3 linked regions of the Homo sapiens genome follow. The protein of the gene in region 2 binds, or shares a complex with, the protein of the main gene of each other region. Each region holds a gene or a part of one and is shown on either strand. Other genes may lie near its edges. A codon is read from its position in the direction of its gene.

The links.
Region 1: the proteins of PRKAB1 (region 2) and PRKAA2 are in contact, whole or in part, in a crystal structure (PDB 8BIK), measured with the Homo sapiens proteins. Residues at the interface, in NP_006244.2 of Homo sapiens: Pro79, Thr80, Val81, Arg83, Thr106, Ser108, Asn111, Val113, Ile115, Gln154, Val155, Asp159, Phe160, Glu161, Val162, Phe163, Ala165, Leu166, Asp169, Ser170, Lys172, Cys173, Pro186, Tyr187, His188, Gln189, Glu190, Pro191, Tyr192, Ala202; in NP_006243.2 of Homo sapiens: Gly9, Val11, Lys12, Ile13, Thr21, Lys29, Lys31, Asn48, Arg49, Arg53, Asp56, Val58, Ile61, Lys62, Ile65, Gln66, Lys69, Val82 (codon at 6,826), Ile83 (codon at 6,823), Ser84 (codon at 6,820), Thr85 (codon at 6,817), Pro86 (codon at 6,814), Thr87 (codon at 6,811), Asp88 (codon at 6,808), Phe89 (codon at 6,805), Phe90 (codon at 6,802), Met134 (codon at 5,800), Met164 (codon at 4,448), Ser165 (codon at 4,445), Asp166 (codon at 4,442).
Region 3: the proteins of PRKAB1 (region 2) and PRKAA1 are in contact, whole or in part, in a crystal structure (PDB 6C9H), measured with the Homo sapiens proteins. Residues at the interface, in NP_006244.2 of Homo sapiens: Pro79, Val81, Arg83, Leu103, Pro104, Thr106, Val113, Ile115, Asp159, Phe160, Glu161, Val162, Phe163, Ala165, Leu166, Met167, Val168, Asp169, Ser170, Gln171, Arg201, Ala202, Pro203, Pro204, Ile205, Leu206, Pro207, Pro208, His209, Leu210; in NP_006242.5 of Homo sapiens: Gly20, Val22, Lys23, Ile24, Thr32, Lys40, Lys42, Asn59 (codon at 4,967), Arg60 (codon at 4,964), Ile63 (codon at 4,955), Arg64 (codon at 4,952), Val69 (codon at 4,937), Ile72 (codon at 4,928), Arg73 (codon at 4,925), Ile76 (codon at 4,916), Gln77 (codon at 4,913), Val93 (codon at 2,924), Ser95 (codon at 2,918), Thr96 (codon at 2,915), Pro97 (codon at 2,912), Ser98 (codon at 2,909), Asp99 (codon at 2,906), Ile100 (codon at 2,903), Phe101 (codon at 2,900), Met145, Met175, Ser176, Asp177, Gly178, Glu179.

What each region holds. Positions count from the first base shown.
Region 1 is NC_000001.11:56,688,551-56,698,226, reverse strand, and holds part of PRKAA2 (5'-AMP-activated protein kinase catalytic subunit alpha-2), read right to left. Parts: intron 6,834-9,676; coding exon 6,740-6,833; intron 5,870-6,739; coding exon 5,725-5,869; intron 4,463-5,724; coding exon 4,375-4,462; intron 2,293-4,374; coding exon 2,068-2,292; intron 1-2,067. UniProt on the Homo sapiens protein: Catalytic subunit of AMP-activated protein kinase (AMPK), an energy sensor protein kinase that plays a key role in regulating cellular energy metabolism.
Region 2 is NC_000012.12:119,661,519-119,671,322, reverse strand, and holds the start of PRKAB1 (5'-AMP-activated protein kinase subunit beta-1), read right to left. Parts: upstream 3,191-9,804; 5' UTR 3,079-3,190; coding exon 2,920-3,078; intron 1-2,919. UniProt on the Homo sapiens protein: Non-catalytic subunit of AMP-activated protein kinase (AMPK), an energy sensor protein kinase that plays a key role in regulating cellular energy metabolism.
Region 3 is NC_000005.10:40,772,573-40,782,248, forward strand, and holds part of PRKAA1 (5'-AMP-activated protein kinase catalytic subunit alpha-1), read right to left. Parts: exon of another isoform or gene 8,783-9,676; intron 7,767-8,782; exon of another isoform or gene 7,510-7,766; coding exon of another isoform or gene 7,461-7,509; intron 5,015-7,460; coding exon 4,873-5,014; intron 2,932-4,872; coding exon 2,838-2,931; intron 2,401-2,837; coding exon of another isoform or gene 2,356-2,400; intron 1-2,355. UniProt on the Homo sapiens protein: Catalytic subunit of AMP-activated protein kinase (AMPK), an energy sensor protein kinase that plays a key role in regulating cellular energy metabolism.

The sequences.
Region 1 (9,676 bases), on a different chromosome or scaffold from region 2:
CCCAAACATTGGCCAGGCGTGGTGGCTTATGCCTGTAATCCTAGCACTTTGGGAGGCCAAGATGGGAAAACTGCTTTAGGCCAGGAGTTCAAGACCAGCCTGGTAAACATAGCAAGACCCCATCTCTTTAAAAAAAAAAAAAAAAAAGAATTAAAAAAATGAGAATTCCCAAACATTAAAAAATTGAATATAGATAAGTAAATATATATATGACATAAATTTAAAAAGATGAAAACTATAGATTCAAGTTATCATATTAAAGTATAGAGATGAATGATACTTTCATGCCATCTACCTACGTACAAATTAACTCTTCCCAGTAAATATATTTACATTTTTCTTCTGAAGTATATAAATATACAAACACCTGTTTTAAAGCAATGAATCATTACCATTTGACTTTTTTTTTAATAAAAAAAAAATTTTAATATAGATGGGCGCTTACTATGTTGACCAGGCTAGTCTTGACCTTCTGGGCTCAAGCAATCTTCCCATCTCAGCCTCGCAAAGTGTTGGGATTACAGGCATGAGACACTGCCCCCAGCCTATTACTATTCTAAATGTATATGCTGATATGAGCAGCTGCAAATATATCAGCATGTCTAATTTTCTAAGGAAAAGTCATTAACAGAAGTATATATGCTAAAGAACTATAAACACAAAGAGTTTTTTTCCTGCTAAGTTCATTTTTATAATTAAATCTGGTGGCTAATTTACACTTTTACATTGTTATACATGAGGTTTGGAACACTGAAGAAAGGCTGGGAAAAGAAAATGATACATAAATGCAAAAAGAATCATCAGTCCTTGCCTGTATGAAATCAGCAGCAGTCACATAAACAGCTATCTCAGCCATCATTTAAATATTCCAAAGGTCAGAGGTCTCAAAACAGTCTTTTCTGGAACTGGGTGCAACGACTCACACTTGTAATCCCAGCACTTTGGGAGGGCAAGGTGGGTGGATTGCTTGAGCCCAGAAGTTCAAGACCAGCCTGGGCAACATGGCAAAACTCCATTTCTACTAAAAATAAAAAAATTAAAAAAAATTAGCTGGGTGTGGTGGCTTGTGCCTATAGTCCCAGCTACTCAGGAGCCTGGGGTGGGAGGAACACCTCAGCTTGGGAGGTTGAGGCTACCTACAGTGAGCTGTGATCACACCACTGCACTCCAGCCTGGGCGACAGAGTGAGACCCTGCCTTAAAAAAAAAAAAAAATTCTTTGCTGGCTAATGATGAAAAGGGGAAAGAGTTCTGGAAAGATGTCAAAAGAACATGTTTGTAAACAAACACGGATGAAATCTTAGGTAAGAAGAAAAAACCTCTAAGAAACATGCCTTGATAAGTCATAGGCAGGATGCAGTGAATCATCTTGCTACTATACACAGGTGTGGGATATACAAAGGTCATATTCATAGGCGCATCAGCAATGGCACTTTCCAAACTTTCTCAAGTGACAAAAAAGCCTTCACAGTAAGCTGACTAGCAGCTATTGAATTCAAAAACTTAGCAAAACTTTTTATGCTTTATGTCTTTAACCATATGTAAAATACAAAATCTCACCCTATTTCTCCATTTGAAATTTCTTCAGACACTTTCTAAGCATACCATCTTTCCAGGCCTTTTAGCATTGTGTAGTCAAAGATGAATAAGACACACTCTCTACCCTGATATCATAATTTAAGAGAGAAAAAAGACACACTGAGAAATAACTAGATACAGGATGAGGATTAAATAATAAAAGCATGAACAAAATGTTGATAAAACAGAAATGGAAGCACGTGTGGAAATCACAAAAGGGGTGGCATGAACTTTAATGGATGAATGGAAGTCTATCAGGTCAAAAAAGAAACAAGAAAAGACATCAAGGCAAAGTGAATAATATAAACAAAGACATGAAGGCATAAAATCTATGTTAGGTTTGAGAAACAAGGACAAGTTCAATGTGGCTGAAGCATGAGTACTGGGGTGAGGTGGTGAGGGCAGGAAATGAGACTTTGGGAGAATCATTTAATTAACATTATTATTCCTATGAGAAAATATGCAGAACAGAAACAAAAAGAAAAATCACCTTATGTCTTTGATAGTTGCTCGTTTCAGTGGGTCAACCTGCAGCATATGCATCAGGAGAGTGGCGACAGAACGATTGAGATATTCTGGGATATAAAAGACACCCCCTCGGATCTTCTTAAATAACGTAGGTACATGCTCATCATCAAATGGGAGGGTGCCACAAAGAAGAGCATACAAGATAACACCACAGCTCCAGATATCAACTTCAGGACCTGCATACAATCTAAGAAAAAAGATGACAACACAAACCTGAAATGCAAGAATCACTTTTTCTCTATGTACCCTACTTCTATATATAGGTAGTCTACATTCAGTACATATTCATTTCCAAGGTCTTTAATGAAGTCCATGGCTGCTCCCCAATATTCAGTGTTTGTTCCCCAAAGAGAGTAATGGGGCTAGCCAACTACTATTCAAGCCTGCCAAGTGAATAGGGTATTTTTATTTGTCACAAATTCATTTAACTGAAACATACGAATTAAAACATATAATACTTTCTGTGGTTGATTTTTGAGGGAAACAAAGTAGATGACCACAAACTTGAAAAAATACTATGGTGTATAGGTTAAATCTTTTTCCCAAAGAACTATTACAAGAAAGAAAACATATATATAATGTATACATATAATAGAATTTCTACCCCTGGCACACCTTTAAAGAATATTAAGGCTGGTCACGGTAGCTCACACCTGTAATCCTAGTACTTTGGGAGGCTGAGGCGGGCGGATTGCTTGAGGCTACGAGTTTGAGGCCAGCCTGGGCAACATGGTGAAACGCTGTTTCTACTAAAAATACAAAAAATAGCCAGGGATGGTGGTGCACATCTTAGTCCCAGCTACTCAGAAGGCTGAGGTGGGAGGATCATCTGAGCCCAGGAGGTGGTACAGTGAGCTGAGATTGTGCCACTGCACTCTAGCCTAGGTGACAGAGCGAGACTCTATCTCAAAACAAAAAATATATATATATATATATATAATATATCATATATATAGAGAGAGAGATATTTAAAACATTAAAGTACTTAATTAGTACTGTGTAGACAGTATTTATCCTGTATCACATTATCCTGAGTACTTACTATTTCTATTCTCATCACTTCCTAACTCATATGACTAAAATCATCTTTGATCCAGATAACCTATGCTTATAGTATTATTCCTTTTTTCTCTTACGTTTCTACAGCATTACAATTCCCATGATAGCATATTACCATACTCAAACCTGGGTCTGAGGTAACAAAGTAAATCTTTACTATTCTAATGAAAAGAATATAATCTGTTTATATAAAAAATGGTGATTGTTTACATCATTTGCTGTATTGTTCAAACTCCTTGCAATGGACTGAATGCTTATGTCCTCTCAAAATTCATGTGTTGAAATCCTAACCCCCAAGGAGATAGTATTAGGAGGTGGGGACTTAAGGGGGGTGATTAGGTCACTAGTGCAGAGTTCTCATGAATGGGATTAGTGCCCTTATAAGAGCGACCCCAGAGAGATCCCTTGTCCCTTTCACCATGTGAAGTTACAGTGAGCATACAGTAGTCTATTAGGAAGCAGACCCTCACCAGATACCAAATCTTGATCTTGGACTTCCCAGACTTCAGAACTGTGAGAAATACATTTCTGTTGTTTATAAGCTATCACCTTTATTGTATCTTTCTTATAGCAGCCCAAATGGACTAAGATAATTCTTTATCTGCTATTTGCAATAATACTTTAACCATATTTTCTCTTATAGGATTCTGTTAACTTTTAAAATCACACGTTGATCACTGTAGAAAGACTTGAGTTTACCACTGCAATCTGTATAAACATTTTTATAATGTACCAATGAATAAGTTATGAGTAACTACACAATCTCTACTTGTGTAATTTCATGAAACAATATTTTCCCCCAAAATCTCATTTTTCCAAACACAAAATATAAAACAATGCTCTATATACTTTGGAAAATATGCAAGGTATTATTAAAGAACTATATCTAATAAATAAATGACACTAGCTTAAATTTAGCAAATTCTTACTCTCTTATCTGCACTTTTGTAAAATGAAAGATATGTTAAATCAGGATCTACTTCAGTTATTTTTCTAATGGGGAAAACTTCGTAAGTATATTTATAATGACATCTAAATGAAATGTTTAACATTTTTTGATATAACCATTATCCCTTTAACAGTGGAAAAATAAATGAATAATCCATTTCTACCATGTTAAAATCTTACCTTCCATAGAGAATATATTGTAATTAAATGTTATCAAAATGAACACAAGATTACAAAAAGCTTATGCTTCACTGATTATTACCTGCCTGAGATGACTTCAGGTGCTGCATAATTTGGAGATCCGCAACTAGTTCTCAGAAATTCACCATCTGACATCATATTAGATAATCCTAAAAATAAAAGTAATGTTTACTTGGTGCTAGATATTTTTAAAAGTAGATAAAGTCATATAAATATGAGCAAAATTTCAAGTCCTGGATCCTCCATATATCATTTTTTTTTAAGTTATTAAAAAAAAGCAGTGGAAAGCATTTAACTGGAAAGAGACCGTCTCAGAGTGCTTACACTGTAACAAAAAGCTAAAGCACATCACATATATGAGTGAAACTAAATTTCCTTTCTAAATAAAAATGTTGATTCCCATCACAAATGAGGTTATTCTGAAGCATATTAACTTTCCCAAACATGAAAACATCAAAATATTATTTACCTATTTCCATAGTTGAAAGAATAAAATAGAGACTACTACTTTTTTGCCCTGTGCTTTCAAAAGCCTCTTTAAATTCTGTAATTAGAAACCAGATGGGCCCCACCTCATAAAGAGATTATGTTCCAAAAGTTTTTAATTTAGAAATATTTAATTCAACATGGAAAAAATAATCTATTGAACCAAAAATCTAGCTGAGCTATAGTAATAAATAAGTTTCATGATTTAGAGAAGGAAGAGAAATAGAGAAAGTAGTTTCTAGGTTTTTAGATTAAAGACAAGGTATAGACCACAAATAGGCAACAATAGCCTGTACCTTTCTATCTCTTTCTCTTTAATCTCTCACTTCCTAGTCTTTTTCTCAAATACCCTATTAAGGCATCCTTTCCACGTATGTTTATCCCAGAAAGTGTTTGGAGTATAAAAATCACATTTTATGTACCTTTTACCCCTGACAAAAACTGTTCTCTAATCAAGTTATTAGACGTTACACCTAAGGACCTCTTTGTGGATCAGTTCAGAAGGGCTTTTTTCCAACTGCATGCATATTTTCAGGTACCTTGGTTTATATGCATTCATCAGGGAAAGTGCCCATACTTTCATGAGATTTTCAAAGAAGTCTGGGACTCCTCCCCTCTCTTCAAAAAAAAAAAAAACAAAAAAACAGTTATGCATCATTTCCTTAGGAGAAAATGCAGATTGAATGGATTTATCTTGATGACAACCTTCTAACTTCTCTAGAGGTATCTGCATTTTTAAAGTGTATTTAATGAAAATTAATGAAAATTTAATTAAATGAAAAAAAAAAGCTACTGAGGAGATTTCAGCTAATTCCTTTTCATGGTACAGAACGTACAAGGTTGAAAAGTAAAGTTCTTAGTTCAATGAGTTGTTATGCTTTAAAAGGTAGCTAGTACCTTTCTGAACAACCCTGGAGTTACATACCGAAATCGGCTATCTTGGCATTCATGTGTGCATCCAACAGGACATTCTCTGGTTTCAGGTCTCGATGAACAACCATATGCCTATGACAGTAATCCACAGCAGACAGAATCTGCTGAAAGAGCCGCCTGGCTTCCATCTCTTCAACCTATCAAGCACAAAAGAAACTGCATTAAGAATATCTGGGGCTGGGCACAGTGGCTCATGCCTGTAATCCCAGCCAAGGCAGGTGGATTACCTGAGGTCAGGAGTTTGAGACCAGCCTGACCAATAAGGTGAAACTCCATCTCTACTAAAAATACAAAAATTAGCCGGGCATGGTGACATGCACCTGTAGTTCCAGCTACTCAGGAGAGTGGGACACGAGAATTGCTTGTACCAGGAGGCAGAGGTTGCAGTGAGCTGAGATCATGCCACTGCGCTCCAGCCTGGGCAACAGAGCAAGAGTCTGTCTCAAAAAAAAAAAAAAAAAAAAAATCTGAGACATCTATTTGACAAGAGTTTTAATTTCATAATTAGGCTAAATATAATTAAGCAAGCTAGAATTATGTTGGAATTCTCAACAAATCAGACAAAATAAACCAACCAAAAGCTTGTCAAAGCTCAACATGTCAAAAGACAAGTTTGTCTTTGTCGCTAAGCAGAAATATTTAAATTTCAATTAATATTATTAAATGTGCACAATGTTTTGGGGAATTGACAGTAAAACAAACTAAAACAGAACATATGTGAAAGTGCTAAGAAAAGGAAATAACTGATCTTCAACATGATTTTATGGAACAGATTTTAAAAAGCATACGCATCATGTTGGCAATTAAGTGAAACATATTTTCTAAAATCAGTATTTCAAAAGGAATGCTTTTTAAGAAAGAAAATTTATCTAACACTCTACATGTTTAGTTGAGCACTACCATAAAAGCAACTTCAACCTTGAAGATATCTTTGCATTGTTCTATGTCCCAATACTTTCCTTTTTATTAGTTTAGAGATTTAGTGTACCAGATAGTATGTTACTCACCCGTCCATGCTTACAGATGTAGTCAAATAATTCACCTCCAGACACATATTCCATTACCATAAAAAAATCTGTTGGAGTGCTGATCACCTGGTATCTTTTTTGTTAATTAAAAAAAGTTAACAAAGTATGTTACTTTAACCAAAATCAAACTGGTATATCTACTCTTGCTACAATTTTATATTTCAATGTTTTATAATACTTTAAGATGGCAACAAATTACATGTTATCAAAATAATCACAGAGCAATAAACACGGACCATTACAAAATTATTCTATTTCTTGAGGCTCACGGCCGTTCCTTTAGATCCTCCCTTTCAAGTTTACATAATTTTTGAAATCTTTCCCTCTTCAACAACTAATTTTTCCATATAAACAAAAATTTGTTTACAGTAAAAGGAGATGAGGTATCACATATTTAAAGATAAACAGAAAATATACTTGGGCCAGACACTATGGCTCATGCCTGTAATCCCAGCACTTTGGAAGGCCAAGGTGGGAGAATCACTTGAGCTCAGGGCAATGTTTTGGGGAATTGACAGCAAAACAAACTAAAACAGAACATACATGAAAGTGCTAAGAAAAGAAAATAACTGATCTTCAACATGATTTTATGGAACCGATTTTGAAAAGCATAGGCTTCATGTTGGCAATTAAGTGGAATATATCTTCTAAAGTCAGTATTTTACCAGCCTGGGCAACATAGCAAGACCTCATTTCTGTAAAACATACATATATTTTCCTGGACACGTAACATGATACTACAGGGATACATTCAGCAAAATCCAGGAAGTGAAAAATGACCATTTCCTCAACAAATAAAATGCAAGAAAAAAAGGGAAAGGATAAACTATACGTTAAAAGTAACTTAAGAGACATATTGACCAATTATGCTGTATAGACTTATTTTGATTCTGATTCAAATAAACCAACTTTAAAAACCATTTATGAAACAATCAGGAAAGTCTACATGCTGATTAGTGGTGGATAATGTTGTTAATTATTTTAATTAAGATGTGATAGGCCGGGCGTGGTGGCTCACGCCTGTAATCCCAGCACTTTGGGAGGCCGAGGCGGACAGATCACAAGGTCAGGAGATTGAGACCATCCTGGCTAAACCAAACACGGTGAAACCCCGTCTCTACTAAAAATACAAAAAATTAGCTGGGCATGGTGGCGGGCACCTGTAGTCCCAGCTACTCGGGAGGCTGAGGCAGGAGAATGGCGTGAACCCGGGAGGCAGAGCTTGCGGTGAGCCAAGATCGTGCCACTGCACTCCAGCATGGGCAACAGAGCGAGACTCCGCTTCAAAAAAAAAAAAAAAAAGATGTGATGATACTATGCTTATGTTATTTAGAGTTTAAAAAAGTATTTTCTAGAGTAGATACTGAAGAGTTTACAGATTAAAAAGATAATGTTGAGATTTGCTTCAAAATAATCTGGCGTAGATAAAACAATGAATTGACTACTGTTGAAGGTGAATAAGACATGCATGGGGTTTCACCGCGTTACTTTTGTAAATGTTAAACAATTCCCATCATGAAAAATTAAGAGTGTGTGTGTGTGTGTGTGTGTGTGTGTGTGTGTGTGTGTCTGTGTGTCTGTGTTTCTAGGCATCCAAAGCTGGGCACATTAAAAACTAAGAAAAAAAATTAGCTTTATTTGATAAAATAAATTTTTTTCCCAAAAACTACAACTTACACCCCTATACACAATTTTACCAAACCAAGTTTTGGAGACGTTAAAATTAGTTACTTTTTTTCTTTTGTTTGAGACAGAGTCTTGCTCTGCCACTCAGGCTGGAGTGCAGCGGCCATGCTCTCGGCTCACTGCGCACCCCACCTCCTGGGTTCAAGAAATTCTCCTGCCTCAACCTCCCGAGTAGCTGGGACTACAGGCATGCACCACCATGCCCGGCTAATTTTTGTATTTTTAGTAGAGAGGGGGGTTTCACCATGTTGGCCAGGCTGGTCTCGAACTCCTGACCTCAAGTGATCTGCCCGCCTTGGCCTCCCAAAATGCTGGGATTACAGGCATGAGCCACCAAGCCTGGCCAGAAGAAATATTTTGAATGGCAATCATTAGTCTTTGGGAAGAAACATGGCAAGGTATTCTAATTTATATAAAATAAACGAATATGACTGAAGAAGAATTGAGACTATTTCAAATGAACTTTGGAAAGGTAATTATACTGAGAACTCTAGAAGAAATAGTTTTATAAAAGCTATCTTTACAAGCACCAAAGTGATCACGTAAACTGAATACTGTAGGGCAGGTGCATCTGCTGTAGCACCTCACTGTAGGTTGGTCTGATTTAGTAACAATTTTCAATCACTTTTGTGCTCTGTACATCCTAGATGGGGCACAAAAGAAAAGAAGTGATGACATTCTAATAAATAAATTTAGCTGCCATTTCTGAGTATATCACAGGTCTTCAACAGATATTCTTGGAATTAATTATTTCATGAAACCTCTAAATCCTTAGCAGCCACTGTCTTACACTAAAGGCCAGTCTAGAGCAATGAAAATCATAACGTTACTAAGCACTTACTGTCTGCCAGGCACTAAGCTATTAAATGGTGACACAACATTTATTGAGTACCTACTTGTATTGTACTCGGTGAGATCAAAAGTTGGTGCCTCTACTCGTGGAGCTTACAGTTTAGCCAGAAAGACAGACATTAAATAAAGATTCTCTTCAAACACAAATATGATCTCCAGTAGCCTCTCAATTTAGAATCTTCAAAGGTTTCCCATTGCTCTTAGGTCCTGAATAAATCAGGCCCTTGCCATCTCTGTTGTTTGGTCTCACCTTTGAGTCACAACACTGAGTCATACTACATTTTTCAGTGTTAGTCATGCTGTACCTCCTCCTGCTACAGCTCCTTTGTATAAGCTGTTTTCACTGACCTGAATCCTATACTATGACCTGAGTGAGCC
Region 2 (9,804 bases):
AATGATAAAATCACCTAATGATGTATTTCTCAGAATATGTCCCTGTCATTAAGTGATGTATGACTGTACATGAAAATTTAAGAGGAACAATTCTAGAGCTGTCAACTTGAAAATAGGCAAATCCAGATTTTGAGGAAGGGAAAAACTACTCACAAAGTTCTGTCTAGGGACTGGGGAATAAAGCAAGACAAAGACTGAACCCTCATTAGGATAAATGATAACCTCCAGTGTGGTAAGCTCCGTATAACTGAGGTATTCCAGAATAAGAAATAAACTCATCCAAATCTATCTGGATGACATATGTAGTCATGCACCTTTTAGATTTTTTCCCAGTCAGAAGCCAAAGACTTAAAAAGAGCAGAAGGTTCAGGCTGGAAAAGACTCTTCAGGGAGTTAAGCAGGCTTCTAGCACCTTCATCTCAAATACCGACCTCAGCTTATCCAAATGATGCCTGTATTCTTTGAATTCTAACAAGATCTACATATTAAATAACAGACTGGAATCACTTCACACTAAGGATAACTAATTATGACCAAAATAGCACCCTAGTGTAGTTAAAAGAATTCACGACTTTTTTGGTATCTGGGGATTTCAGTAACTTCTAATGAAGTGAGAATGGACGCTGCTTGAAATCATTCCCCATAGATGATGTGTGTGCTCAACATTTCCTGGAGGAGTTTTGGAATAGTAACAGAACAAATACTTCTGAAGAAAGTAGTTTTGATTCCTTTGGTGTCTTAAATAGCCTTCTTGGGACCAGGGACCAAAATTACCTCCTGGGGAAAGGACGTCAAGTCATTAGAGAAACATGATTCTAAAGTTCACTTTGCACACAGCTCTTCAAGAATGCAACAAATTCAGAGAGCAAGTTCAAACCACAGGTTGTAGGGCCACATAAAAGCAGCCTCTTTGTAGTCAGGCTCAAAACTAAGATCCAAAAGAAGGTGTGAGATGTGATCACCTCGCTCAACATGAGGACAAACACAGATGGAATGAGCTGCCAAGCAATTAAATGGATGATGATTAACATGAAATTGGATACTAACAGGGTATGTTGGGCAGAGGGCAGCTTTATCTTTCCTAAACCTACTTTGTTCCTTGAAACAATTAGTTCCTTTTGGACATAACACATAAATACCAGCTGCCAGAATCACTAAGTGTCCTTGGACTGAGCCCTGCGGCTGGAAATATCCACCATATGAAGGTGGTTAACAGGAGTGTGGTTGAAGCAGGAGTTAAGTCACCTGAGTTTTTGAATTTAAACAGGCTGCAGCAGGAAGAAAAATGTTTGCACTGGCCTGCTTAAGCACGATTAAGTCATATTTAAACAACACTAGAGAGAAGTTCAGTAGCTGCTGGCTGCCTCCTTCAGACAGACCCTCACCGCCCACTGACCTCTAGAAGCTGAAAGACTTTTCTATGTACGCTTTAAAAAAAAGCAGGGTGAGGCCGGGAGTGGTGGCTCATGCCTGTAATCGCAGCACTTTGGGCGGCCCAGGCGGGCGGATCACTTGAGGTCAGGAGTTCAAGACCAACCTGGGCAACATGGCGAAACCCCACCTCTACCAAAAATACACAAAATTAGCCAGGCATGGTGGCACACGCCTGTAGTCCCAGCTACTCGGGAGGCTGAGGCAGGATGGTTTGAGTCCGGGAGACGAAGGTTGCAGTGCCCCGAGATTGTGCTACTGCCCTCCAGCCTGGGCAACAGAGTGAGACTCCATCTCAAAGAAGGAAAAAAAAAAAATAAGTAGGGTGGGTTCAGTGGCTCACGCCTGTAATCCCAGCACTTTGGGAGGCCGAGGCAGGCGGATCTCCTGAGGTCAGGAGATGGAGACCATCCTGGCTAACACGGTGAAACCCCGTCTCTACTAAAAATATAAAAAATTAGCCGGGCGTGGTGGCGGGTGCCTGTCGTCCCAGCTACTCGGGAGGCTGAGGCAGGAGAATGGCGTGAACCTAGGAGGCGGAGCTTGCAGTGAGCCGAGATCGCGCCACTGCACTCCAGCCTGGGCGACAGAGCGAGACTCGGTCTCAAAAAAAAAAAAAAGTAGGCTGAACCGGCCAGCACCGTAGCTCACGCCTGCGATCCCAGCACTTTGGGAGGCCAAGGCATAAAGATTGCTTGAACCCGGGAGTTCGAGACCAGCCTGGAGAACATTGTGAGACCACCGTCTTTTTTATTTTTATTTATATTTTTTTTTTGAGACGAAGTCTAGCTCTGTCGCCCAGGCTGGAGTGCAGTGGCGCGACCTCGGCTCACTGCAAGCTGCGCCTCCCGGGTTCACGCCATTCTCCTGCCTCAGCCTCCCGAGTAGCTGGGACCACAGGCGCCCGCCACCACGCCCGGCTAATTAGTGAGACCACCGTCTTTTAAAAAATAAGTAGGGTGAATCAAAAGTGTTGGGCAGAACTAAACACCTCTGGCAACTGCCGTCAGCTGTTCCGCTCTACTTTCAGCTTGTATATGTACCTGGTTTGCCTCCAAAATGGATAAATTCCCAAACTAACTTTTACAAAAGCTCCAGTTTGTGTAAAGGTGAGGGAATTTGTCTCAAAGCAGTGCAATTAATTACACCTAAGAGAAAAGCAGAAGCTGGGGCTCAATTACTGTTAGCTCGACTCTGAATTAATTAAGAATTTGAAACTCTGTCCCAGAGCTGCTTTCTCCTTAATGATGTTAAACCAAGTGAGCACCTCCTCCCTCAGGGTGACTTTCTCATATTGGTAATTAGACACAGGTTCTTGGACCGCTAAGAGAACTCTTACAGGACCATCTGGCTTTTAAGTGCACCGGGTAATGTACCACCTCCCTCTCCGTTCTGGTGTTTTTCGAAAGGATGTGACGGGAATCTAGTGGAGGGTTCCTCTCCTCAACATTAGTCAAGGGGAATCGGGTTCCTCCACACCGCTCGCACCTTGATTTCCTCGGAGTGGAAGAGGTCGGCGTCTTCGGGGCTGTCCATCAGGATCTTGGGCCTGTCCCCGTCCTTGGTGCCCCCCGAGCTGTCCCTCCGGGGCGTCTTATGGCCACCATGCCGCTCCAGCGCGGCGCGCTCACTGCTGGTATTGCCCATGATGGGGGTCTGCGGGGACACAGGGAAGGCGGACGGCGCCTCACTGCAGGAAAGGGACCCTGAGCAAGGGACTCCCGGAACCGCGGGTCCCAAGGAGCCTGCGGAAGGAGTCGGAGCACCAGGACACCACGCCCCTCGGGCCGGGAGCCGGTTCCGGCTGAGTCGGCAGGGTTGCCGAGCTCTCGCAATCGCGCTTTACCTGCCCAGGCAAGCCGCGGCAAGAACGCAAGGGGCGCGAAGATAAACCGACACTTTCCCAACCGCTTCACCACCCCTCAGCGACTTCCGCTTCCGGCGACTCCGTAAGTCGGCCCGGCCTAGGGCGTGGAGGTGGCGGCGGCCAGCTAAACGCGCGAGGCTATCTCGATTCCATTTCCGCTTCCGGTCTTGAGCGGTGCGGTAACAGGTGCCCCGGGCCGTCTCTGCAGGCCTCGGAGCGCGCAGTCGCAGTCAGCAGCCGGCCGCCCAGGGCCAGGCCCAGGACGAGGCGCTGCCGAGGGCCGGCAGGGGGCACCCCAGCGCGCGGGCAATCTGAGCCGTTCATGCGCTGGGCTGAATAATGCCATTTAGCTATCTTTGCTCACTTATAGTTGATTCTACACTCTGCAGCCAGAGGGATCTTTCTAAAATGCAAATCTGATTCAGAAACTCCACTTCTTAAAGCCCTTTTAATGCACGTGTTCTCACGCTTTACAGTGCATTAGGTTAACCTGGAGCGCTTGTTAAATGCATCCCCCACTGCAGACCTGCAGAATCATGATTTCTACAGATTAGGGTCGGGGGTGCAGGCAGTCTTGCAGGTATTTGAAAAAATGGCAGACCATAAGATCTCTGGAAATTTCTTATGTCTAGTAGGTTGGGGGTTGTAAAATGCTGGAGTTATTCGTGTATTTTTATTGAGTGTGCAATCTTTTGATAGGTAATTTTGCAAGATATCTTGTAATCACTTCGGAAACATCCTTCTGCATAAGATGCATTAGCGTTTGTCATTTACTCTGGTCAGTGCTTCAACAAGAAGTGCATACAAATACGGTAGTAAAATATTCTCATCTTCTCATTGTCAGTCATTGTCATATTTTGTGGGTTTTTTGGTGTGTGAATATCTCAAAATACTTTGCATTTGCCGGGTCAGGTCATGCATTTCACCCACTGAACATTTATTTAGTACCTAAAAAAGTACCAGACATTGTGCTAAGGAAATGAGGAACACAAGATGACTAAGATAAGGTTTCCTGGGGGGAATTCAGCAGTATGCATCAAAATTTAAAAATGCACCTTCATTTTGACACACAATTTTACTCCTAGGAAACTTGTGCAGAAATACACACATGAAAATTATTTACAAGCATTATCTACAAAATATTTACATGCAAAAATATATTCTAAGATGCACTTGTCACCCCCCATGCCCCCATATATTTTAATTTCTGAAACTGGATGCTTTTTACAATAATGGAATCTTACACTTGGTGAAATAAGGAAATGAAAAACTACAAAATCCTAAAAGTTGTTCAGTAGGAGAATGGCAAAATGAATGGAATACATTCATTTTGTAGAATACCAAGCAACTTTTAAAAAGGGAGAAACCATTTTTAGGTCACTATGGGGAAGTGTCTATGATATTGCAAGGTCCGGAAGCAAGTGAGAGAACAAGTTCAAGGGCAGGAGCTCTGAATTCAGCCTGGCCATGTTCAGATTCTGGCTTTACCATTTAGTAACTGTCACCTTAGTCTCTTCTTTTGTGAAATGGGAACAAAAATAACACCTACTTCATAGGCTTGTTTTGTGAATTAATTGGGAACGTGCATAAAAATGCTGAGCATAGCACTTGACTCTTAGTAAACACTCAATAACTGTTAACACTTTTATTAGCACTATTAGGCTAGCAAATGGAAAGTTCTGGAAGGGTATACAACACATTGTTAATAGTGGTCTTCTGTGGGGAGAGGAGGGAGATTGCAAATAGGAGCAGACAGAAAAGGGACTTTCACTTTTCATTTATATAGTTCTGTATTTGAAAAGTTTTCTATTGTGAGGATGTACTACTTTTTAATTTAAAAAAATAAGATATGGTTCCAGCCCCAAAGGAATTAATACAGTACAGGCTGGCACCGACCCACAGAAAAGCAATAATATAGCTAGGTAAGGGATCCTGTGGGAGCCCAGAAGGGACTTAAGCCAGGCCAGGAAAAGGGATGGGAGCCAGGAAAAGGGATGGGAGCCAGGAGGGTCTTCCTGAAGCTGATGACTGAGAATTTGAATGTATTCAGTATAATCAGAAATGTTGAATGTGCTTGCTGAATTAAATAAGCTAAGATACTGTGGATGACCCAGGATATCTTCTTTGAGCTGCTTTTCTAATAGTGGCCCTGACTTGGTTACATGAGACAGTGGGGTGTTGAGTTTTGAAATCTCTCCCAAACAGCCGGAGAGATAAGAAAGAACACATGAGCTGTGGATTCTTTATCTGAGCTATGCAGATGCTTTGATGCATGAAGAAAGTTTTAAGACATCTGCACTAGCTTGAATAAGATAACAGTGAAAGCATGGGTGGCCCTTGATGTCAAATACAATCAACAATATCCTGAGGATGCCACCAACTGCTGATTGGAAACTCTTACCACATTGTATCAAGATTTCATGACAAAGAAACTAACATTGGTATCTATCAGCTATTGACCCCATATTGAAAATCATGGGTAGGGTAGACTCGCCAATTACAAGTGTCTACTTGGGTCCCAGCTGTGTCTCTCTTGGGTCATTTTGTGTTACTTATCTGTGTAACAATGGTTTGTGACTTTCCTAAGCATCAGAGCGTCTCATCTTTCTCTGATTCTCTGCTGATATGGATGTCAGACCATTCCATCTTGGGGGCTGGAGGTGTGCCAGGAAGTATAACTGTTAGCACATTGCTGTGTAAAAGGCATCATCTACTCACTGCTGTCTGTCTGGCACCAGGGCAAAGACAAATGATAAATACCCTAGATTCTCCCCCAAACAAACCAGGGCAATTTTAACACAGCCACAGCTAGGAGTACCCCTCCCCCACCCCCGCAACCCTGGCTTCAAATTCACTCCAGCTCCAAGCACAAAAAGAAGTAGGTTTTCAAGTCCTTAAAAGTCACCCAGAGTGAGATAAAATCTCATTTATCCTTAAATTTATGATTAAAAGGGTTAAGGATAATGTTTTGGGGCCTCCTCCATAGGATGGATTAGAATCAGTATAGCACTTCTGAACTGACCAACCCATTTGTTTTATATAAGGAAGAGTCTAAGTCCCAGAGATCGAACAGTTTTGCCTGAGGTCACTCAGATGATCATAGGTCATACTGAGACTGAATTCTGGATCACCTGGCCACTCCCCACTACATCATGGTCATGGCACCTCATCAAAAAGACCTTTGGTTCCCCAGCTGGCCTGTCTACAAACATTTGTACTGTTCTGAAGAACCCTCCCCATCTAAGAACAGCCAGGGCTCTGATCACAAATAACTCAATGGCAATATTGAGTGCCAATTATGAGCCAGGCACTGTTGTAACTCTTGGTTACAACAGTGAACAAAACCAAGTTCTTGCCCTCCAGAGGAAAGAGTCCACACACATATGCACATGTGGTGAGAACAGGCAGTGTTCTCACTAAACATCGGTAGCTGGAGGAAGAAATTTCACATTTGGACTATGCTGTAGACTAAATTGTATCCCCCCAAAATTCATACATTTGCACTCCCACTCCCAATTTTATAATGTTTGGAGGTGGGGCCTTCAAGGGGTAATTAGGGTTAGATGAGCTCATGAGAGTGGGGCCCCCATGATGAGATCAGGGTACTTATGGGAAGAAGAGACGCTGGAGAGCTTGCTCGCATGCTGTCTATTCACGCCCATGCTCAATGGAAAGGCCATGTGATGACAAAGCAAGAAGGCGGCCATCTGCAACTCAGGGAAAGAGCCCTCACCACACATCAACCATCCTGGCACCCTGATTGTATTAGGCCATTCTTGTATTGCTATAAAGAAATATTTGAGGTTGAGTAAGTTATAAAGAAAAGAGGTTTACTTGGCTTATGGTTCTGTAGGCTGTACAGCAAGCATGGCTCTGGGTATCTGCTTGCTTCTGGTGAGGCCTCAGGAAGCCAAGGGGGAGCCGATGTATTGATGTATCACATGGCAAGAGTGGGAGTAAGAAAAAAAGTGGGAGGAGGTGCCGCACGCTTTTAAACAACCAGATCTTGTGAGGGCAGCACCAAGACGATGGTGCTACACTATTCATGAGAAGTCCACCTCCATGATGCAGTCACCTCCCACCATGTTGGAGGCCTCACCTCCAACATGGGATTACATTTCAGTGTAAGATTTAGGGGGAAAAGTATCCAAATTATATCACTGATATTAGACTTCCAGCTTTCGGACCTGGGAGAAGTAAATCTCTGTTGTTTAAGCCACCCAGTTGATGATTTGTTATAGCAGTCTGAGCTGACTAAGACAGACTCAAATGTGTGTGGGCTGCTAGGATAGAATTACAAGCTTACTTTTAGGGCTTAACCAGATTTCCACCAGGCCTTCTGAATTTTGCCTAGCCAATGTAAGTAACACTGCCAATGTTTGAGAAACTTGTCCATCTTTTCTTGCTAGACATTCTTGTGTTCTCTTTGCACTGAGATGTGAATATTGTGACAGAGAGTCATCAACATAGAATTAAAAGAAGTTCATTCTACAGCATTTGGTCTACAACCTTAATTGGCAAATAGCCTCATTTTGTGACTTTTAGGTTGTCTGAGAAAATTCTGTTTCTTGACCTGGGTTGGTAATTATTAACATGTTTGCCTTGTAGTAACTTACTAAGCCATACATTTCTTTTGTGTAGTTTCCTGTATCTTTATTTTATTTTCAATAAAGTTTTTTTTAAATAAATAGCTTCACTCACAGGGTAAGCTGAAACCTAGAAGGGAGAAGTGCCCAGTTCAAGGTAACACAATGTTCTTAATAAAGTTCACCTCAAGTCTATCCTCTTTTTTTTTTTTTTTGAGATGGAGTTTCACTCTTTTCACTCAGGCTGGAGTGCAGTGGTGCAATGTCGGCTCACTGCAACCTCCGTCTCCCGGGTTCAAGCGATTCTTCTGCCTCAGCCTCCCAAGTAGCTGGGACCACAGGCGCACCCCACCACGCCTGGCTACTTTTTGTATTTTTAGTAGAGACGGGGTTTCACCATGTTGGCCAGGCTGGTCTCAAACTCCTGACCTCAGGTGATCCACCCTCCTCGGCCTCCCAAAGTGCTGGGATTACAGGTGTGAGCCACTGCACCTGGCATCTCTATCCTCTTTTAAGAGCTTTGAAGGAATGGAGGAGAAAAGGATGTACACTTTCTACCCCTTTTCTAGAGGACAAGTGACAAACTAAAGCAGTATCCAGGCAAAGATCCAACGGAGGTGAAAACAATGAGAGGAAGTCTGTCTCTGTCTCATCTCTTTAAAATGTAAGCTCCCAGGGATTTGAATATCAAAGTTTCATAATCACTTTAACATATGCTGTTGGGACCATCATACCCCATCTGCATGTGCCCTTCTGCGCATGCCCCAAACTTCCTAACTGTGAGCAGGTGCAACTCTGAGGGCCTTCTGGAGAAAGCTTTGTCGACACAAGTGGGAACCCAAGGGGACCAGAGAAGACACCCTGAGAGAAGCCCTCAGCCAACCACAGAGGAGCCAGTTCCCTTGCCCCTTGGATGTGCTAACTCTAATGAAGCAGCGTCATTTTTCTGGGGTAACACCCGAGGTTCGATGTCTCATGCTAAGGAAATTGAAGACATGGCCATGCAAGGAGTGGGTTTAAGAGTGGAAAGTTAAATAGATGAAAGAAGGAAGAGAGCTTCCTCATGCAGAAGAAGGGGTCCTGAGTGGGTTTCCCTGGTTTGGGGCAAGGTGTGGTTGGTTTTAGGGATGAGCGTGAGGAGATGGTATATGATTTACATGGGGTGTAGTGGATTGGTTGGACCAGATGTGCCATTTTCATAGCCCGTGAAGAGGCTGGTCATCCCACTCTAATCTTTTATTATGCAAATGGAATTTTAAAAAACCTGGCTGGTGCCATGTTATCTGCACACGTGGCAACAAAGAAAAGGGAAGAGGGAACCTCCATGTTGAATATACCTGGTTTCCAGCTATCTGTTTTCTATTGGCACAGCTGCTGGTATTTACCTATGCAAGCCTCTAGCTTGCTTATCTATGCTTGCAGCTTGATTTTTCAGGCTGCTTTTTGTTAAAAAAAGAAATGATTTGGAGACTGCGTTTTTATTAAAAGAAAAACCTTACTGAGGACTCTCTTACCCTCACTAACTGTCTAAATAATTTCTTTTTAGCTCTCGTATAACTAAGATATATTCCCTACCGTGTCTCAGAGGTCCCCAGTGGAAATGCACCCTAGATGTCCACAGCAGTAATTGGATCAAGGAATTCATTGATTATCTTCCTTTCCTTTTCTTTATCTCTTTTTAGGAGCACCTTCCAAATAAATACTCAGAAACACCTCCCAAGACACACTAATTGCATGAAAATCCTAGTTCAACCACATAGGTTACAGATGAGGAGGGACAATAGCTTGCTGAATTATAGAAAAAGTTAGTGGTCATAGATCATAATTTGGATCTTATGTCTTGGTTTCTGGTCCAGGGTACTGTGAGATTATCATTCTTCTTGATATGATGAACCATGGAGACTTTTAAAAAACAGGGAT
Region 3 (9,676 bases), on a different chromosome or scaffold from region 2:
TCTTACATAGCAACTACCTTTTCATTTTTGTTTTTTGTGTTTTTTTGGGGGGGCGGGGTTTTAAATTTATCTATATTTTGAGATCCAGTCTCGTTCTGTCATCCAGGCTGGAGTGCAGTGATGCCATCACGGCTCACTGCAGCCTCGGCTTCCCTGGGGTCCCGCAATCCTCCCACCCCAGCCTCCTAAGTAGTTGGGACCACAGGCACATGCCACCACGCCCACTAATTTTTGTATTTCTGATAGAGACAGGACTTTGCCATGTTGCCCAGGCTGGTCTCGAACTCCTGAGCTCAGGCAATCTACCGCTTCAGCATCCCAAAGTGCTGAGATTACAGACATGTGCCACTGCATGCAGCCTGAAGTATTTTTTTTAAACTTCTCTATGTATCCATATATTATTACCACTTTTTTCAACATAAGTGACAGCCATTACTTGGACATGCCTGCTCCCAAGAAGTCATATTTAATAAATAAGCTATTAATCCTCTAGGCGAAGGACTCCAATATGCAATTCTCTAACACAGGTCACAAATTAGCATTCTAAAACCAGACTTACACCTTAAAGGGCATGGATAATATGGGAGAAAATACAAATCAGTAATTTATTTTGAAACAAGAAACTATTATAAGATACCATTCCTCTAGAAAAATACTAATCCTTTAGCATTCTAATACTTTTATTTCTAGATTTGTAGGTTCATGGGGAAAAAAAAGAGTATCTGTTCAAATATGAAAAAATAGGAGAAAACTTGATTAAACAAAATATAAAAAGTAAAATAGACAGGCTACAAAAATGAAAATTATACTGTATTAGTAACAAGTACAATTACAAAGGATGGAGAAAGGGATGTCTATAAAGGAAGGTTAGAAAAGTCAAAATACATTTCCAATTAAATGTAACAGATTAAATCTTTTGTCTCCAACTCTTGAAACATCACTAAAATGACATCAGCAATAAAACAGGCATATAAAGACAAAAAGAACAAAAGAGACAGCAGTAATCAAGAGGAGTCACCAAGGATGACAATAGATAAACAGTAATAAAGACTAAGCCTACAAGAGAAAGCTAAAACCTAAGCCTATAGGGGTAGAAACCAGTAAAAAATAAACATCTGCATACAAAGCCTGGGAAGCCTTAGAAATTGGAAACACAGGGAACTGCTCAAGGTAGAAGTGAGAGATGAGCTGAAAACAGGACAAGTGCTTGAAGTAAGAAGCTTTTAAACTCACCCATATTGGGGAATAAGACCTATAATTTACTCTAGTAAGGCTGAACCAGCTCTGCTCTCAAGGACACCAAGGCAGGGATAAGGCATCCTAAGGAAAACATGGGGGCTAAGACAAAGTCAACATACTAACTAGTGAGACTTGCATCTCTTTTCTCCACTCAGCTCCTGGAGCACTGGCAGCTAAGCTAAGGCCTTTAAGGAAATGGGAAGGTTTCTTCTGGAGCAAATATCTGATCCAAGAAAACATATTTGTTATTATTAGCATTTGGTATACAGTAATAAAACAGACAAGTCCCTACCTATTCAAGCTATGAGAAAACCCAGCAATCAGTAAGTCCTACCCACATGAGCCTGGCATTTAATACCCTATTCTTAAATATTTAGTGGACAGCCAAGAATCACCAAATATCTGAAGAAGGGCCATGCATCAAAGACAAAAATGAATAAAATGAATGCAGAGAGCACAGAAGGTACAGAACAAGACGGAACAGAGGAAGACTTTTTTTAAAATGCCATCCTCAGACTAGGTTATTATATCTGTGAGGCAAATAACAGCAGACTAAAAAAATGAAAATTTCAGAAAATAAGAAACTTTTGAAATAGAAAATACGGGTGCTGAAATTTTAATATTCAACTGGTAAAACTGAAGAAATACCCACAAGGTAAAACCAAGAAATAAACAACAACAGAAAAGATAAGAAAAATATATATCAATTGTGCCTGTTTCCCATTTCTCCAGGCAGAATTTTTTTTTTTTTTTTTTTTTTGGTAAGGAGAAGCAGGAGTAAAGGGGAGTACCTGAAATAGAAATGAATCATGTTAAGAAATAGTAAAATCAAAATTAACTTGGTTAATAAGTTTGATTTTGATAAAAGTAAATAGACATGCTATATAGAACAAATGAATGAGTAATGTAAATAACTTAAAATTGAGAGAAAAGCTCTCTTTTCAGGGCTAGCTACAGCTCTCCCACAAAGGGGCTTTTGCATACCACATAACCTGGGTATGAGAAAAAGTATGGGCAGAGGGCAGTGTTGAGTTTTTGTATCTGTAACTTAAGGTAGTGTTCAAAATGTCCTACAAAGTTCCTTCCAGCTGTAAATTCTTTATATCTAATTCCTACCTCCTTCGTGGAGCCTGTTTTTACTACTCCAGGTACATCAGATTTCTGAAACCAAAAAATGAATGCAATTTAAATGTGGCTAGAATTGACTAGCAAGGCCTAGATCTTTAAGTAATAATAATATATTTTGTAACGATTAATTACATTAAGATACATATTCAAAGTATTTGTATACCCTGGAAGCATAAGTCTGAGGATTATGAGTTCTGGGGGCTCAAGCCAATTCCGTCATTAATAAATCACGTTACTGTGAGCAATCATATAAGCCGCGAGGCTCAGTATCCACATCTGTATAAACAGGCTAAGGAGATAATCTTTAAGATCCTTTCTAGTTCTACATAGTTTATGATTCTAAACAAATATATGACTAAGGGAACTGGTTATTAAATAGACCTCTTAAAATTGGTTGCTGACATTTTGATGCTAGTAAAGGATAAAGGGGAGTTACAAAATACATACAGAATTAAAGCAGAACAGCTTACCCTTCCATTCTTACAGATATAATCAAATAGCTCTCCTCCTGAGACATATTCCATCACCATGAAAATATCAGATGGTGTACTGATGACCTGGTACCTGGTGAGAGAAAACATTGTCTACAAATATTAAAACACATATATTCATTCATTCAATAAATATTTACTAAGCACCTATAGTATACCAGGTACTAGGCTAGGAGCTAGAAAAACTGCAGGAAACAAAAATTCTCTGCTCTCATGGAGTTCATGTTCCAGGAACCAGGAAACAGACACTAAATAAATAAGCAATATCTCAGGTGGTGGAACATGCTATGAAGAAAAATAAAGCAAATGAAGGGGAATCTTTGTATACAGAGTGCTAAAGGAAAGCCTCTAATAAAGTAACATTTGAGCTGAGCCTAAAAGAAGAATGGGAACAAATTATGTAATTATCTAGGAGGAAAGCGAAACTGGGAGAGGGAATAGCAACTGCAAAGGTCCCCAAGTAGAAGCCTGCTTGGCATGTTCGAGGAATATTAGAGAGAAATAGGATGTAGAGTCAAAGGTGTTAACTGCAGGCCAGAAGACACAGAATTTTACAAGCCATGATAAGGCTTTGGCTTTTACTCCAAGGAAGATGAAAAGCTATCGTACGTTTTAAGCAGTCATGTGATCTGGCATATTAAAAGTAAAACTATGGCAGCAATGTGAAGAATTAACTGTCAACAGTAAAGGTAGCCACAGGAGGTTACTTCAGGATTTCATGAGACAGATGGTGGCTGAGACCAGGTTGACAGCAATAAAGGAACTGAGAAGCAATCAAATCCTAGCTTGATTGTGAAGGAAGAAATGAAATGCATGGTAGAAAGTGAAAGAAACAGGGAAGTTAAAAATGGTTCCTAAGTTTTAGCCCTGGGTCATTGGCTGTTAGCCAAGATGGTGAAAACTGTGGGAAGAGCAGGTTTGGGAGAGTAATAAAGAGTTCATTTTGGGCCGGGTTGAGTTTTAAATGTCTTGCGAACATCCAAATGGAAATGTAAAGTCAGCAGTGAGCAAATAAGTCTGGTGTAAGAAGAGATCTTAAAGCAAGAGATGTACATTTAGGGGTGGTCAGCATATGGATGGTATTTAAAACCTAGCACTCAACAAATGAGAAGAGGTAAGAGTGAAACAAGTTTGAGTCAGCCAGTTCAGGAGAAAAACCTAAGCATCTTTAAGTTATTGCCTGCATAACAAAGCAGAAGCTGAGCAGGAAATAGTTATTTGTAGACTCTATAACTGGCAACTGTAAAACAACAGTAAGATTACTGCCCTTTTGAAACCTTGGATTCCTGAAATTTTGTTATCTATATGTTCAGGTATAAGCAGGATGGGGAAAAACCCTTTCTACTACCGCATTCTCACTAGTGAGGCTAACTGACATCATGTGGGCATTTGGAGGTCAAGAGTTTTTACTAGCAGATCACTGTTGGTTTTACAGCAATGGGGCACCAAACATTACCAGAAGAGCATCTTTCCAGGAGACAGGAAAGAATGAGAAGATAACAGCTGATAAGCACAAGGGCAAAACATGAACACAGGCTTAAATGACCATCAATGGGGTTAGAAAAATACATGAATGGGAAGAAACTTTTATTTTTTTTTGGGACAGAGTTTCGCTTTTGTTGCCCAAGCTGGAGTGCAATGGCACGATCTCAGCTCACTGCAACCTCCGCCTCCCAGGTTCAAGCCATTCTCCTGCCTTAGCCTCCCGAGTAGCTGGTATTACAGGCGCCCACCACCATGCCCAGCTAATTTTTGTATTTTTACTGGAGACAGGGTTTCACCATGTTGGCCAGGCTGGTCTCGAACTCCTGACCTCAGGTGATCCGCCTGCCTCAGCCTCCCAAAGTACTGGAATTACAGGTGTGAGCCACCGCACACAGCCTAGGAAGAAACTTTTCAAAACCCTTAGGAAACAAAAAGAAGTGTCAGTCATTTTTCTCACTTGTCACATTAAGTAGGTTAACAAAAAAGATGAAAAGATGACTGGACTATATTTAATATAAACAGAGCTTACAGTTTAATTATATGAGGATGCCTGAAAAGCTTGAGGTTCTGAATTTCTCTGCGGATTTTTCCTACCACATCAAGGCTCCGAATCTTCTGTCGATTGAGTATCTTCACAGCTACTTTATGCCCAGTCAATTCATGTTTGCCAACTGTAAAAGAAGTAATTTAATAAATTAGTACTAAGTATGATTAATAATATATTTACACATATTCTGGCCCGGTGCAGTGGCTCATGCCTGTAATCCCAGCACTTTGGGAGGCCGAGGCGAGTAGATCACTTGAGGTCAGGAGTTCGAAACCAATCTGGCCAACATGGCAAAACCCCATCTCTACTAAAAAATACAAAAATTAATGGCCGGGAGCGGTGGCTCATGCCTGTAATCCCAGCACTTTGGGAGGCCGAGGCGGGCAGATCACCTGAGATCAGGAGTTCGAGACCAGCCCGGCTAACATGGTGAAACCCCGTTTCTACTAAAAATACAAAAAATTGGCGAGGCGTGCTGGTACACAGCTGTAATCCCAGCTACTCGGGAGGCTGAGGCAGGAGAATCGCTTGAACCCAGGAGGCGGAGGTTGCAGTGAGCCGAGATCACACCACTGCACTCCAGCTTGGGCAACAAGAGCAAAACTCTGTCTCAAACAAACAAACAAATACAAAAATTAGCTGGGTGCAGTGGTGGCACATGCCTGTAATCCCAGCTACTTGGGAGGTGAAGCAGGAGAATCACTTGAACCTGGGAGGCAGAGGTTGCAGTGAGCCCAGATTGCACCACTGCACTCCAGTCTGGGGTGATGATTGAGACTCTGCCTCAACAAAATAAAAATAATAATATATTTAGACATATTATAAGAGTAGTCATCTAGCATCCTCAGAAAATAGCTAAGCAAATATAAGTTATTTTCTCTTTTGCCAGATTCATCCCAAATGTTCAGATGTTTAAGAGTGATTACATAGGAGAATACATAAGAAATTGGTAACAGTGGTTTCTTCCAGAAGAGAAAGCTAGAAGACTAAAGGAAGAGGGGAAGGAGACTTTTTTGCTGTATACCTTTTCGTATTTTTAAATTCTTTTAATTTTTCACCTTTTAACCTATCATACACACAGACTAAAATTTTTCTTTTAGTATCATTTATATGGATATTAAAACATATAGAAATTGGTGTAACCAGCATTATATAGTCAGATACAGAACAGTTCCATCATCCCAAAAGACTCTCTCATGTCATAGATACATTTCCCCATCCATAACCTCTTATACCTTTGAAATTCTGGTTCATGTGCATGTGGTTTCTAGTTTTTTTGGTTTCTCTGTGTTTTAAATTTTTTTTCCTGTTTTTTAATTTTTTTTTTTTTTTTTTTTTTTTTGAGACAGGGTGTCACTCTATCACCCAGGGTGGAGTGCCGTGTCACAATCAGAGCTCACTGCAGCGTTAACCTCCCCAGGCTCAGGTGATCAGGTGATCCTCCCATCTCAGCCTCCCAAGTAGCTGGGACTACAGGCAGGCCCCACCACACCCAGATAATTTTTTTGTATTTTTCTGTAGAAATGATGTTTTACCATATTGACCAGGATGGTCTCAAACTCCTCAGTTCAAGCAATCCACCAGCCTCAACTTCCCAAAGTGCTAGGATTATAGGTGTGAGCCACCATGCCCAGCCTCTATTTTTTTAAATGCAGTTAAAAATAAAGGGAAAAAAAAAATCAAGTCATTTTATCTTTCCATTTTAAATGTTATCACTAGACAGTCGGTGGTGACAGAATTTGGGTTTAGGACATAATCCCAAAAGACACAATCCCAAATGCCATAATCCCAAATGTTGAAATCCCAAAAGATCAAAATCCCTAAAATCTAAAATTCCAAAAATCACAATCCCAAAAGAACAAAATCCAAAAAATTGAATTCTGGAAAAATAATTTGTAAAAAGTTCTCTAAAAGACACTTATTTCCATTTTTAAAAGATTTATTTGAGAAACATAAAAACACAACGGAACAGTTCATAGGCCCCTTTACACAATAAAATAGGCACTAATAACATATTTTTGCAAGCATAAATACTCAGGTATACTAACAACCATTGCATGGGTATAATAGGAACAGAGAAAATGTATTCATGAAGAAATAGATTAAAAAGCAAAATGGATAAACACGTATCACTATGGTTGGTAATCAGGTGCACCCAGATTCATAACTGCGGTCATCTGAAATACCAGACAACCTGAATCTTCTGACAAGATCGATCAAAAACTGCAATGGGTCACTACCGTTTGCACAAAAACTGCAATAGAGTCACCCAAAGAGCCAAGATCTTGAGAAATTTTATCTTTCACAAATACAGATGAACAAAACGGACATCTCTTCATTTACTGAGCAAGTTTCAACATTTTTATGTACATGCACAATGCTTACACATTACGTCACATTGTGATAATGCACTTTCATGGAGTCAAATATGCAAAAAAAAAGTGCATAAAATGAATTAGAATTCTCTAAAAGCCTTTACAGAATTTATACCTGCAGTATTAGAAATGATGCAAAGATAAAATACATAGCATAGCAAATTGGCACTATGTGTGAAAGGGCAGAAGTCATACCTGATTGAATAATTTGGCAGGGGAGCTTTCTTATATTTTTCACCTGCATATTCACTTCTATGATCTTCAAAACATTCACTTGTGTTTAGACTAGAGCGGTTGTGGTCTAAATATTTTGTAAGTATATGCTGACCATTTAGAAATCTGGTTATTGCTTGGCCATTGCAATTAAGTGATTTTCTGTCTTCACAACACCAATAATAATTAGCTTTTAAACTTTTCTCTTTCAGCATTAAGTAGCCTGGTATACTTAATTTATCACAGCCTTTTTGCAAGGGAACAATTTCACAGGTCTCTTCCACTGTGCTGTAAGGAATACAGTAAGAAGGAATGATATTTGGCTTTCTCAATACCAAATCCGTATTAGTCAGCATTCTCGACAGACATAATTCTCGACAGACAGCATTCTTGAGAGACATAACCAATAAGATATATATATACATAGATATATGAGAGACGATTTATTAGGGGAATTGGCTCATGCGATTATAGTGGCTGATAAGTTCCAGGACAGGTCATTTTCAAGCTGGAGACCCTGGCATGCTGGTAGCTTGGCTCAGTCCAAAGACCTCAGAACCAAGCCAAACCAGGTCTCAGTCTGAGGCTGAAAGCCCAGGACCCAGGGGGCTGCTGGTGTATGTCCTAGAGTCCAAATGCCAACAAGCCTGGAGTTCTGATGTTCAATTCAGCAGAAGAAAAGTCCGTTCCAGCTCTCAGAAAGGCAACAATTTGTTTTCTCTGGGCCCCCAGCAGATTTAATGGTGGCCACCGCTATTGAGGGCAGATCTTCCCCACCTAGTCCACTCAGACTCACATACTAATCTCCTCACAGACAAACCCAAAATAATGCTTTAACAAGTTTCTAGGTATTTCTTAATCCAGTCAAGTTGACACCTAAAATTAAATCCATGAATCCACCCCTCGTCAATTTGGCACCCATAAACCATCTCCTTAAACCATACTTAATTTCCAAATAAATACAATAAAAAGGCAATCGGTTCCACCTAATATGATGCAAGTAAAATGATGCAACTATCTTTCATACAACCGAATGTGCACTAATTTCTACCCCAGGTGTTGGCTTTCAGCATTTCAACATTTGGGATTTTAATCTTTCATGATTCTGATTTTCAGGATTTCAGATGTGTGAGATTTTTAGAATTTAGGGATTCTGATTTTTAGAGATTTTGATCTTTCAGTATTTCAACATTTGGGATTATGGCATTAGGGATTTGGTCTTTTGGGGATATGATCACCAGTAGAATTTAGACAGTCATGAGGCTAAGTCTCCAAAAATTTAACCTTTGTGCACCCTTTCTCAGGAACCTACTGGAGAATATATATTCCATCAAAATCAGGAAGAAACCCAAGAAAGATGGCATGGAATCCAGCAAAGAAGGGATCCAATATAGGAGAAAAACTAAGAGAATCTCAAAATGGTGAAGCAAAGTCACAGTAACATATGGAGAAGGCCTAGAAGGCAACAAATCCAGACAGGAATGTGACAGAGAATCCAAGATAGTTATTTCTGAGGGATTTTACAAAGGCACTGGAAGATGTAAGAAATTAAGCTTTAGGTAAAAAAATTAAACAAATGAAAAAAATGAGATAATTCATGAATGCCAGTAAAATTAAAGTTCTGTAAGAAATAAAACATAGTCATAGATACTGACTTAGCAAATAGTATTTACACAGCCACAATTATGAAAAAACCAAATATAGGTTTTATTAAAAGTACGATATAACTATATTAGGAGGATGGGGGTGTAGTATGAAATGTATAAGAGAAAGAAGGAAGGCAACCCTATAATCACAGCTGAAATCAACTGTGGAAATGAAGCACATTCTAATTTCTAATAAGGCTTTCTCCAATCTCCAGTACTAATTAGATGTGATTAAGAGCAGCCAACTTGACTGTTAAAGCTTGCTTCAGGAAGTATCTTTTTTCTTAGAACAAGTATGTTGAAACCTAAGCATGGTGCTAAACACATCCTCCAAGAATCTCCAAGCTCTGGCTTGGCACAGACTTTCTCTTGACAGCTGCTCAGCTGAAACAGGACTGGGAAATAGCCACAATACTGGATAATACTGGTGGACTCAAGACCTGGAAAGAATACTAAGACAGAATCCAATTTGGGCCTGAACTCCCAAACCATCACAAACCAACCAAACTCCTATGATACCCTGCTCAACTGAACTTCAACCCCAATTAACTT